Regions from separate parts of the Homo sapiens genome. Here region 1 is linked to region 2. Evidence: fine-mapped expression QTL. A gene starts in region 2. The other region holds a variant in brackets. All regions are shown on one strand. Distances are from middle to middle.

What was found. PIP is the estimated chance that this variant, and not a neighbour inherited with it, causes the effect.
Region 1: its variant is the best candidate, but not a certain one, in a credible set for the expression of SLC47A2 in thyroid (GTEx, PIP 0.75).

What each region holds. Positions count from the first base shown.
Region 1 is chr17:19,580,963-19,583,863 of GRCh38, reverse strand. It overlaps the pseudogene SLC47A1P1. Among named protein-coding and RNA genes, the nearest start is that of SNORA59B, 25 kb to the right of the region's middle. The variant G/T (reference allele first, on the strand shown) is at 1,399.
Region 2 is chr17:19,715,334-19,718,234 of GRCh38, reverse strand. It overlaps SLC47A2 (solute carrier family 47 member 2), which reads left to right and starts at 1,651. Exons shown (of 17, transcript NM_001099646.3): 1 at 1,651-1,802. The coding sequence starts at 1,680. It overlaps LOC124903948 (a long non-coding RNA gene), which reads right to left. Exons shown (of 2, transcript XR_007065659.1): 2 at 1-861. RefSeq lists enhancers at 476-1,323, 1,324-2,173.

The sequences.
Region 1 (2,901 bases), 130 kb after region 2:
TTTATCCTTCTTTTAGGGAAGTATTTGTGTAAACTGGTTCAAATTCTTCGTGGAACAAGGTGGACTATAAATAAATGTTCCTTTATTTAAAAAAAAAAAACACATTTTTATTAGTCCTTTTATACTATGAACATTTTTCCAAAGGTAAAAAATTTTGTTTTCACAGTTATCTTAAAAATGAGTCTATTATCTTCCTAGAAGATCTCACTGCAACCTCCGCCTCCCGGTTTCAAGAGATCTCCTGCCTCAGCCTCCCAAGTAGTTGGGATTACAGGCACCCACCACCATGCCTGGCTAATTTTTGTGTTTTTAGTAGAGACGGGGTTTCGCCATGTTGGTCAGGTTAGTCTTGAACTCCTGACTTCAGGTGATCCGCCCGCCTCAGCCTCCCAAAGTGCTGGGATTACAGGTGTGAGCCACCACGCCATGCCTAACCACAGGAATTTCTGTAGCCCGTTCCTGATAAGGGGCTCTGCGCTCTTCCGCCTTTGGCCAAGGGCAGTGGTAGGTCAGCTAAGTTGTCAAGACAATTTTGGCCAACATGGTAAAACCCCGTCTCTACTAAAAATACAAAAATTAGCCAGACACGGTGGTGGGCGCCTGTAATCCCAGCTACTCAGGAGGTTGAGGTGGGAGAATTGCTTGAATCTGGGAGGCGGAGGTTGCAGTGAGCTGAGATCTCACCACTGCACTCCAGCCTAGGCAATAGAGCAAGACTTCATCTCAGGAAAAAACAAAAACAAAAAAAACACAAAAAAACAAAACAGCAGAGTCAGCTTGACTAGTGCTGTCCTCTGGGGCCACCTGCTCAAGGGCATTTTGTCCTTTGTTCCTCCCAGTCTGGTCTCCCATACCCTAAAATCGCCCTCCCTTACCACCACCCCTCCTTCCCTGCTGGCCTCCTTCAAGCCAAGCTTCTTGAAGGTGTTCTTTGCACTCGGGCCTGGCCTGCACTCCCGACTCAGCCCCTATTGATGCCTTGTTTATTCCTGCCCAGCCCACTGGGCCTGGCCTCTTCCCGGCCTCCTATGACAAAATCCTCAAGTGAGCGCTTGGCCGTCCTTAATCCACTTGGCCATCCCTGCTTTCTAGAGCACTGCCTTGGCCTCCATGACCTCCCGCCCCCCGAAGTTCTTGCCACCCTGCTAGCTGCCCTTCTCAGCCTACAGTGTGTGCTTTTCTTCCACTGCACCCTCCCCGGGTATCCCTGGCCCTCAGAGTCCCCCACAACTTCACCTTCTACCATGGCACATGTTCTCCTGCAGCATCTGTCTGCCTCCCATGTTGAAAACTCTCTTTTAAGCTTCAGTTTCTGCTACCTCTACCCTCCATGTTAACAGTCCCAGCTCCTGGGAGCAGGGACACATTGTCCCAGGACACGTGTAAAATGCCACAGGG[G/T]CCAGCTAGCTCACTGGTTGTCCCTGGCTCAGAAGCTCCCCCAATGCTGTCAGCTGTTGGTGGGGAGGGCGGGAGCAGATGATGGGAAACCGGTCTGCCTGGGCGCCGGGCAGGCGCCCCTGGGAGGGGTTGCTTGTGGCGCAGGCCCCCAGCCTCGGCCTGCCTGGCATATGCTGTTAGCAGTGCATTTGTTTTCTCAAGTCCTTTGGAGGCAAGAACCTCAAGCGCGTGGGGATCATACTTCAGAGAGGGGTCCTCATCCTTATGCTGTGCTGCTTTCCCTGCTGGGCCGACTTGGTCAACACCGAGCGCATCCTCCTGCTCTTAAAACAAGACCCGAAGTCTCCAGGTGAGGTCCCCTGTTTCCCAATCCTAGGTTAAGAGTAGGTGGCTATCTGGTCATTGTACCTGTGTGGACATTTTCGGCCAATTACATGGTCTTGATCCCTTTCAAAAATGAAAGCTGTGACTGTGGGTCACAGAGTCGAGCCCACAGCCCCAGGGATGACAGCAGAGGCGGGGAGAGGAGAAGAGTGGACACCCAGATGCTGAGGTCCTCTTGAACAAGGTGGCTGACTGGCCATTAGATGTCATCCACATGGAGGAGTGACCGATGGCCCAGAAGTGAGCCCAGGGAGCACCCTGGGGGCAGTGATGGTTGGCAAGCAGTAATCAGAAAAGGTGGACCCCAATCCTGGGCCCTGCGGGGACACAGCAGGAAATTTCCCTGCCAGTCTTAGATCATCATCCTGTTAAGGTAGAGGCCAAGCTCGTCTTTCCCGGTGGGGACACTGGAGCAGCCATGTATACGAATCTCCTCTGCCTTCATGCCTCTTCCTAGAGTCCCAGTCTAAACTTTCAAAGGAAGCAAAAATGTCCCTTAATCCAATACGTTCACCAAATAACAGACCTGTAAATAAAATGTGTGACTGATTCCACCTGGCAAGGTCTTGGCTCCCATGTAGCTGAATGAGAAGCTCCGGTGGCCCTCCGTGTTCTTAGGGTGTGTACCCATCTCACGGGGACACAGGGGACATTTTCTGAGACTAGGGAAAGCCGCCTACCATCACCAGCAGAAGTGTTTTCCACTTTCTCTGAAAGCCTGGATGAAATGCAGGAAGAAACAACTTTCCACATCACTAACAAAAGCCAGGGAACAGACGTCCCAGGAGGTGTGATTTCAATCCATGGGAGAGGCTTTTCCACAAGGGTGAAAGGGTGGGAGCTGAATGTACTGTGTAATCCAATTAATGGCAAACAACCTAAATTACCTAAAAGTCTCCTGATTTAATTTCATAATAGAAAAAAGTGCAGTTATTTCAGTTTTACACTTTTCTAAGTATTGACACGAGCTCCTTCCAAATCTAATCAGGTAATGGTAAGCCACAGGTCAGTCCCAGACCTGTAAAGGAAGATGCATAAGACATGATACAATTCAAACTGATTTTTTTTTCTTTCCTTTTTTTTTTTTTTTTTTTTTTGAGACGGAGTCTCCTTCTGTTA
Region 2 (2,901 bases):
GGCCAGCAGGTGACTGCTCTCCCCAGAGGCCCTGTCAGCTGGAAGCAGCTGGTTTCACATAACAGAGACCCCAGGCCCAGGTCCCCTGGATGCAGGAGGATTTGCGGCTGCCCTTTTGGAAGAGGTAGGCTGACCATGAGAACTGGCCAAAGGTGAGAAGGACGTGGAGAAGGTGTTGGAGGAGGGAAGTCAGACATACTAGCAATAGCCTGGCCTGCAGGGCTGTAGCTTTCACCTGTACTTCCTCCTGTTTGGTGTCATCATCACAATCACGATGGTGATAAAATGTCTTCTTTCCTCTAGGCAGGTGGTAAAGGTACTATTTGGTGCACAGGTTGGAGAGTGCTGTGATAAGAACCATCAGAACAAGGGCAGGAATGTGACCTCCCAGGTGATCCTGGGAGGATCCAGTGGAGCGTTTCAGAATTCTGTGTCAAAAAAGAAGGCTGCGTGTTGACTGGGGTGGGGCTGTGCCTGTGTTTGGGGCCGCCCATGGGTGTAGCAAACCCTTTTTTTTTTTTTGTATTTGTCCTGCCTCCTCTCCTTCAGGGTCTGCTCCTTCCTCCTCGCGGCTCTGGGGGCTGCATCTCGGAATCCTGCCGGCCACTCCTCCGCTGCAGGGGTGGACATGGGAACCAAGTGGGGCCTTTGGGATGTCTTCAGCCCTCCCACAGCCACTGGCCAGCCTGCCTGCTGTCTTCCTGCCCCCCTCGCTCACTCCTCCTTCTCCTGGGCTGAACCACACCCAAAAGCTTGATCCAGGACTGGGCTAGGTGACCGGTGCAATCCTTAGATGCCTCTCTTGGTTCCCACTGCCCTGCTGGTCTTGAGGCAGGTTGAGGGGGGAGTCACAGGCCATCCCTGCAAGGAAAAGCAGAGAGGGCAATTTGGGAAGGTGACAGAGGACCCTGTGGGACGTCGAGTCACAGCCTTGCTGGGCACAGTGACTGGCGTGCATAGTGAGCTGCTTTCCCAAGCACTGCCACCCCTGGCTCTCAGATATGCTGCTGAAAGGGGTGACGGGCAGTGGGGGGCTTGGGACTCCGCCGAGGTGTCCTAGCTCCCATCCCTATCCCCAGGCCCAGGCCCAGGCCCCTCCAGCATGAAAGGCTAGGGACCGCACTGCCATGGGGTTTGCCAGGCCCCTGTCTCTTGGGAAGCCACCCCTCCCAGGGAAAAGCAGGGCTGAGGGCTGTTCAGGCTCTGCCACCACCTGCTCTGTGACTTCGGGCAGGCCACCAATTCTTCTGAAAAACGGGAGTCACTGTGGGCACCATCACGCCCGGGTACAGGACGCCCAGTGGCTCAGCTGCCCCAGCCAGGCTGCCCTGTCCTGGCCTCAGCACACCTCCCACAGCCACTGCAGGCAGCCCTGGACCTTCTCCTGCTGAGGCCTTACTGCCAATCCCTCTGGGAGACCAGACACAACAGGCAGCGGTCTGGGTGACTCCCAGGAACCTGTCCTCCCTAGTGGCTGAGGCAGTAGGCTTGGCAGCAGGGACTCAGTGCCCTAGGAGGCAGGGCTCATCCCACAAGTTGCCATGGTAGCCCCTCCTCCTGCCCCTTACTCATCAGCCAGGCTGTACCGACACGGGCTGCCCAGGCAGGGGGTGGCTCGCTGGACAAAGCTGGCCGTGCAGGCGCTCAGGCGTGCAGGGTAGCCAGTGCCCCGGCCAGGAATGGACAGCCTCCAGGACACAGTGGCCCTGGACCATGGGGGCTGCTGCCCTGCCCTCAGCAGGCTGGTTCCCAGAGGCTTTGGGACTGAGATGTGGACTCTCTTTGCCCTTTCTGGACCCCTGGTAAGGAGGAGGAGCTGGGGGGCAGGTAGGGAGTGGAGGAAGCTGAGAGGCTGAGGGTGTCTGCCTTGCAGGCAGGATCCAGAAATGTGCTCACATTTTCCCCAGAAACTGCCCATGTTGACTGCCAGGTCCAGAGTCTGGGGACAGCAGGATGGCTCCTGAAAGCTGTCTCTGGACAATCCCCAGTGGCAGTGGGGCCTGACTTTGCTCAGCAGCAGGCAGCCCCCACACAGAAGGGGTGGGTGTGCCTCAGCTGGAAACCCACAAAAGCCTGAGTTGGAAGATGGCTCCAGGACAAATGGGACCCAGAGATGCATGAAGCCTGCAGCACCTTCGCAGGGGGAAGAAGGGGCCGGCTACCCATTTCATTTCCAAAGGGGAAATTGTTTTAAATACATTTATTTTTTCTGATCATGAAGAGGAATAGGCTGGGCGTGCTGCCTCACGCCTGTTATCTCAGCACTTTGGGAGGCCGAGCAGGGAGGATCACCTGAGGTCAGGAGTTGGAGACCAGCCCGGCCAACATGGAGAACCCCCCGACTCTACTAAAAATACAAAAATTAACCAGGCATGGTGGCGGGCGCCTGTAATTCCAGCTACTTGGGAGAGAGAGGCAGAGAATCGCTTGAACCCGGGACGGGTAGGTTGCAGTGAGCCGAGATCGCGCCACTGCACTCCAGCCTGGGCAACAAGGGCGAAACTCCGTCTCAAAAAAAAAAAAAAAAACAAAAAAAACAAAACCAAAAAGGAGTAATGGAATTGCACTTCCTGTAAAACTTTTAGAAAAAAATGAAAGATATAAAGAAGAAAGAAATTTAACTCAAATCCTAGTACTTGGAAATAGCCATTACTAAGATTTTGGTGTATTTAATTCCCCTCCTTTTTTGGGGGTGTGCGGCCTGACCAAATTATTGTTATAATAGGAACTGCAATAGCAGTATCAGACACTTGGGTCAAGCTCAGGGCGCCAGGCACTGCGCTGCGCCAGGCACTGACCCTTCTGGGTAGGGACGTGGAGGCCAGGCGTGACTGCAGCTGCAGAACGCAGAATGGGAGCTGGGCTAGGTCATCCGACCTCCAGCCCTGGCTTCCCCAGGCG